Linked DNA regions of Homo sapiens: region 1 is linked to region 2. The links come from fine-mapping of genetic effects on gene expression. A gene starts in region 2. The other region holds a variant in brackets. All regions are shown on one strand. Distances are between the middles of the regions. Region 1 overlaps LINC01237 (long intergenic non-protein coding RNA 1237). Region 2 holds the start of LINC01237 (long intergenic non-protein coding RNA 1237).

Region 1 (2,894 bases), 72 kb before region 2:
TGTCACGTGCCTTTCTCGGTAACTGGGATAACATAAAATTAGTCAGGATAAGGAAGACCTGAGCAACATAATCAACTAGAGCGGCCCAATTGTTCTGCCTCAGACCTTGTATCCAAAATGGCTTGCTTCCTCTTCTTCTTAAGTGTACACATAACATTCACCAAAATTTCCATATGTTGGGACATAGGGAAAGCCTCAAATAATTTCAAAGGATCTAAATTTAAAATTCAGAGCATATTTTCTGACCTCAGTAAACTTAGAAGTGAAAAAAAATACTAAAAAATGCTAAACTTCCTGGAAATTAAAGAATATGCTTCTAAATAATCCAGTGGCCAAAAGAAATCATAGCAGAATTTGGATATGTGTTGAATAAATGGTGATGAAGAAAAGACACATCAAAACTGCAGGATGCAGCTAAGCCAAGAGAAAATTATATTCACTGGAGCCTGCAGGGCAGCCACCCCGGCACAGGAGAGAGAGGACAGCGACGGGCCAGCGGAGACCTCAGGACAGCCCCGGCCTGGGCACATCTGGCTCCTCCCCCCGGCCTGGGCACCTCCGGCTCCTCCCCACAGCCTGGGCACCTCCGGCTCCTCCCTGGGGCCTGGGTACATCTGCTCCAGGCCTTTGCAGACACGGCGGCCGAGCACCCCCGGCCGGGCTGTGCAGCTGAGCACTTGGTCCTCTGCTCTGGGGGACAGTAGCGTGGCTTTTCCCACAGCTGGGGTCCCTGCAGCATCACGGGGCCACAAGTCGGGGTGACCTGCCTGCTGCGGGCTCCCTGGGTCAGACGCCCTCGAGCCTGGGTCCTCCAGCTTCCACTCCCCACAGCCTCTGGCCACAGATTCGGTTGGAGTCGCTGCTGAGGCCACAACAGAGGGCTGCGGCCGAGCGTCCACCAAGACAGGGGTCCGGCCTCCTGCCCCACCTGGCCCTGAGCGGAACCACTGCAACCCCTTCTCACCCTCCAGGAGCAGCCGCGTGCGGGGAAACAGCATCCCGTGTGAGGTGGAACCGGGAGAGGAACCTCCCCCCGCACCTTCGGGTGGACCCGGAATTGCACTCATTTATGTGGCCATTTGGAAGATGCCCCCGTGCGCTGAGCCCCCCGTCCCCTCGGTTCCTCCCTTCTCCCTCTCCTCCCCCCTCCCCTTCCCCTCCCTCTCCCCCCTTCTCCCTCGCCTGCCCCCCGCACCCACCTTGCTCTTCCCCCACCCCTTTCCCCTGAGCCTCACTCCCGACTGAGCCGGCAGCCCTGAGCCTGTATCTCAGGCGCTGCTTCCCGGAGAACCAGCTAAACACTCTTCACTCTCCGTCTGAGGGGCTGCTGTAACCACCACCACAGAGGGGGCGCACACAGACCTCCATTGCTCACAATCTGGCGGCTGTGGGTCTGAGGTCGGGCCGGCCGGGACGGGTTCTTGCTAGGGCGGCTTCCTGGCCAGGGCGGTGGAGAGCGAGCTCTGGTCTCCTCCTCTTCCTAGGATGGCACGAATCCCCTCATGTGGCCCCACCCTCATGACCCCATCTAACCCAAATCACCTCCCAAAGGCCCACCTCCAGATGTCATCACAGTGAGGCTTGGGCTTCCACAAAGGGCACGGTCCCGTCCCCGCTAAACATACACGCAAGAGCTTAAGGTTCTCAAAGTCATATCGTGGAAAACATTAGATTTCCTTAAACGTTAATATGCA[T/A]CTTATTTGTATTTAAAAAGGTTTAACAGACAACCCTGTCTCAAAATGATGCCAGGCAAGCCGAGAGAGATCATCACCCATTCTTGTAATCCAAAGCTTAAAAAAGTCCTTTCCTGGCTGGACGCAGTGGCTCACGCCTGTAATCCCAGCACTTTGGGAGGCTGAGGCAGGCAGATCACCTGAGGTCAGGAGTTGGAAGCCAACCTGACCAACATGGTGAAACCCTGTCTCTACTAAAAATACAAAAATTAGCTGGGCATCGTGGCATCTGCCTGTAATCCCAGCTACCACAGAGACTGAGACAGGAGAATCACCCACACCCAGGGGGCGGAGGTTGCAGTGAGCCGAGATCTCACCATTGCACCCCCACCTGGACAACAAGAGTGAAACTCCATCTCAAGAAAAAAAGTCCTTTCCTTCTCTGGATGTGCAAGGAGCAGGAAACTGACCACAGACAGCCAGAGCCATTTCCAGGTCCTTCCGCTGAAGCGCTCCTGAGCACTCCCTACCTTCCCTGCCCAGCACCCTTCCCTCCCGAGTCCCACCTCGATTCTCTTCCGGAGACACGCAGCCTGGGCTCCGTGGGCTGCCCCACCCTGCCCTCCAAGATGGTCCCGTGACCCAGGCCTGGCCGATGAGAGCACCCAATGCCCCACTGCAGTGATGGGCTCAGAGGTGGGCACAAGGCCCCAGCCAGTGCCAGCGTCTCAATCAGAGGCTCCTGTTTGAACTGCTGGGAAGAGGAAATCTCAGAGTAGACTTGAGGCTGCAAAGAAATGACCGTGGCTGCCAGGAGCTGGCAGGAGGAGAAATCTGGGGGACTCATTTCAGAGGAAGGCATGGGTAAGAGATAGAGACCACTGAAGCCCCTAGATCCACCCATTCCTGAATGCCCCTTTGCAGTTAGTAATTGCATACATCAACAACCCCTGCCCCTTCAATGACATTCTTTTTCTGGCTTTTATCAGCTTGAATTGAGTTCCTGATGACTGCAAACAAAAGAGTCCCACTCAAGTAGTTGTTGGTGCCGTTTTTGAGTTTAGGGCACTTCTGACTTTGAAGTTAAACAGTTAAACACTTGAAAGGAATGCAGTCGGTATGGAGGTTTTTGTTTTTACTTATTTGTTGCTGTTATTTTACACAAAACAGGAGTTTCAAACATCTGGAGGCTTTTAAGGATGGGGATAATTTCTCACAGCA
Region 2 (2,894 bases):
CTAAATAAAGCATGGGTCAAAGAAGAAATCCAAAGAAAATTAGCACTTATTTCAAATATCCATCAAAATATTACACAAAAATTGTAGCATAGTCTTAGAGGAAGATTTGTGACTTTAAATACTGACGACATTTCAACAAAGAAGGTACACAGTGATCAATACACTCATGAAAGGGTGTTCAACTCACCCGTCACAAGGAAATGCAAACTAACGCCTCACTGAGATCTGCCAAACTTCTGGTGCCGACTGTGACCTGGCCGCGCCTGCGGGGGGCAGAGGAGAGAAGGAGACTGGGGGTGAGGTCCACGTGTCCCAGGCAGGGGGACAGAGGCCAGAAGAAAGTGGCTGCGGGTGAGATCCACATGTCCCAGCCAGGGACGGAGAGGAGGGAGAACCGGACAGCAGCATCTGCTTCCAGCCACGTCACGTGTTTGGAGAGGCGGTGTCACCTCAGTGTGAGGAATGGCCACTCAGGACACGTCTGGACTTCCTCCCAGCCACCTCTCACCAGGGATCAGAATCCCGGCCCCGGGGACCCTCGACCCATAAACATCTTGGGCCTACAGCACCACCAAGCACGCCACAGCCTTGGCCTGGGGCTGCTTCAGAGACACCGCACGGAGGGCTTCTCACTTCCCCAGCCAGGAGCCACCCACGCTGCACCCGGGGAGGCCCCAGTTGCATCTGTCCCACCTTTCAGACCGAGCCAGCCAGAGGCGCCCAGAAAGACTATGCCAGGCCTCAGCTGTGTTGAAACCCAGGTTGGGGACAGTGGCAGGACCTGTGCCAGCGTCTGCCCTTGCTCCTGGCTGGATTCAGTTACTTGGCTGGGCCCCAGTGAAGGCGCAGAGGGCACCACCACCTGCACAGGAAGGGAAGGAAGCCCACAGCAGAGCCAGCACACGTGTGGCCACGCCCCGGCCCAGCCCCCCCTCACACGTGGCCACACCCCCTGCCCAGCCCCCTTACATGTGGCCACACCTCCGATCAGCCCCCTTCCACACGTGGTCACGCCCCCTGTTCAGCCTCCTCGCACATGACCACGCCCCCGTCCAGCCCCCGCACACAGGGCCACTCCTCTAGCCCAGCCCCTCACACGCGTGACCACGCCCCTTAGTCTCCTCGCTCGTGGCCACGCCCCCTGCACGGCCCCCTCGCGCGTGGCCACACCCCTGTCCAGCCACACACACACACACACACACACACACACACACACACACACACACACGCTGGGCCACGCCCCTACCCAGCCCCCTCACACGTATGGGCACGCCCCTGCTCAGCGCCCTCACACGCATGGCCACCCCCCGTCCAGCCCCTTAACGCGTGCTGCCCCGTGCCCACCTACAGCGGCCTCCTCCGCACCAGGGCTGACCCAGTGTGGGGTCCAGGTGGGCTCTGGTAGGCCCCCGGGCAGAGCTGTGCCCCGCGTCACTGAGGATGCACAGAGAAAAAGGAAGGGGCGGAGGAAGCGGAAACCCGAGCAGCGCTGCCTGGGCGTGGCAAGCCCGCTAGTTTTCCCGCCCGCTCATCTGCTTTCCCTCCCTCCATAATAAGTGTGGCACCTGGAGTGTGTGACTTTCATGATTTTCTTTTAGGAGAAACATAACGCAGTCCTCTGTCCCGCCCCTCCTGCAGGGAATGGTCATGGGGGCGTAGTTAACCCCATGCGTGCGGAGGTACACCTTGGAGCCCAGCGCCGACACAGGTCAGGAGAGTGTTAGCCACTGCTGAATGACTCCTGTTGTGTGCAAAATTGTTTTGACTTTTAAAGACTACACACAACCCATTCTGCCATTATTTAGGGTGAATTATACTGCTGGGTCACAAGAAGAAGACGTGGCTCCTCTTGATGCTGAGGGAGGCCTGGAAGTCATTGCTGGGAGCTTGGGAAGAGGGCTCCCCGAGGCAGAGCCTCCCAGGGGACAGAGGCGGCCCAGCGATGACCTGGGAGGTGAGCACAGGTGTGCGGGGCCCCTCGGGGCCCACCATAAGGCCCCACAGCAGGCCCTAACCTCCCCCATGTGTCCTAAGGCAGTTCCATTTGCATTGGCAATGGTCATTTCACTACTTCTGACCTGGAAGCGAGGTATATGTTTGGAGGTGACACGAGGCTCCCAAAGGGGTGCTATAGGGCGCCTTTTCTTATTTTATAAAACTTACATCGAAATGAGCCGCACCCTGAGGGGCAGCCCACCTGCTCACCCCTGGAGGGACTCTCCCAGGGCTGAGGGTCTTCCCCAGATGCTTCACCCGGGCTCCTCCAAGTGTGGGGTGGCCTTCAGTCTGCTGCGAAGAGGATGTGGGGTGTCTGGCAGCCACTCTGCTCTGGATTTGCGGGAACCTCTGCTGCCTCCCTGGTGCCCCTTGATTGGCGCTGGGTCTAGGAACCCCCTCTGGGTTGGAACTGGACTTGAAAAGGTCATTTTCTGCCTGCACCCACCAAGGCCACCTGGGGCTGTGGAGCCAGGAAACCCCTGTCACTCTCCTCAGATGCTGGCCCGAGGGCACCCTCAGTCTCCCTGAGTCCAAATCACCTTTTCTTCCCAAATGACCCAGCAGCCTAGGCCAGCCCCAGCTGGAAAGACTGCTCCCCTCTCTCCTCCGCTCTGCTCCCCTGCCCTCTCTTCCCCTCCCCTCCCTTCCTTTCTTCTGCTGGCGGAAGTCCTGTGCCAATCCCACATCCACATCCGTCACTGCACTCCTGGATCACACCTGGACAGACACAGAACTAGTCCTGGGAGTGATCCCAGGGCCAGGACCCTAGTAATGAGTTATCTAAATGTCTCTGGGTGTCTGGAATTGGTTCTCTGCTCCAACTAGCTTTAAAGGCATTCACGCTCTGTTCCCAGGGGTACCAGGGTGCTAGCTGCCCACAGGAGTAGCATACAGGC

What was found. PIP is the estimated chance that this variant, and not a neighbour inherited with it, causes the effect.
Region 1: its variant is fine-mapped to the expression of LINC01237 in whole blood (TOPMed, PIP above 0.99).

Annotation. Positions count from the first base shown.
Region 1 is chr2:241,951,509-241,954,402 of GRCh38, reverse strand. All of the region lies in intron 2 of LINC01237 (long intergenic non-protein coding RNA 1237), which reads right to left. Among named protein-coding and RNA genes, the nearest start is that of LINC01238, 18 kb to the left of the region's middle. The variant T/A (reference allele first, on the strand shown) is at 1,695.
Region 2 is chr2:241,879,929-241,882,822 of GRCh38, reverse strand. It overlaps LINC01237 (long intergenic non-protein coding RNA 1237), which reads right to left and starts at 1,460. Exons shown (of 4, transcript NR_110220.1): 1 at 1,345-1,460; 2 at 188-263. LOC105373978 (a long non-coding RNA gene) reads left to right here and starts at 1,496. Exons shown (of 3, transcript XR_924077.3): 1 at 1,496-1,708; 2 at 1,806-1,954. RefSeq lists an enhancer at 1,440-2,030.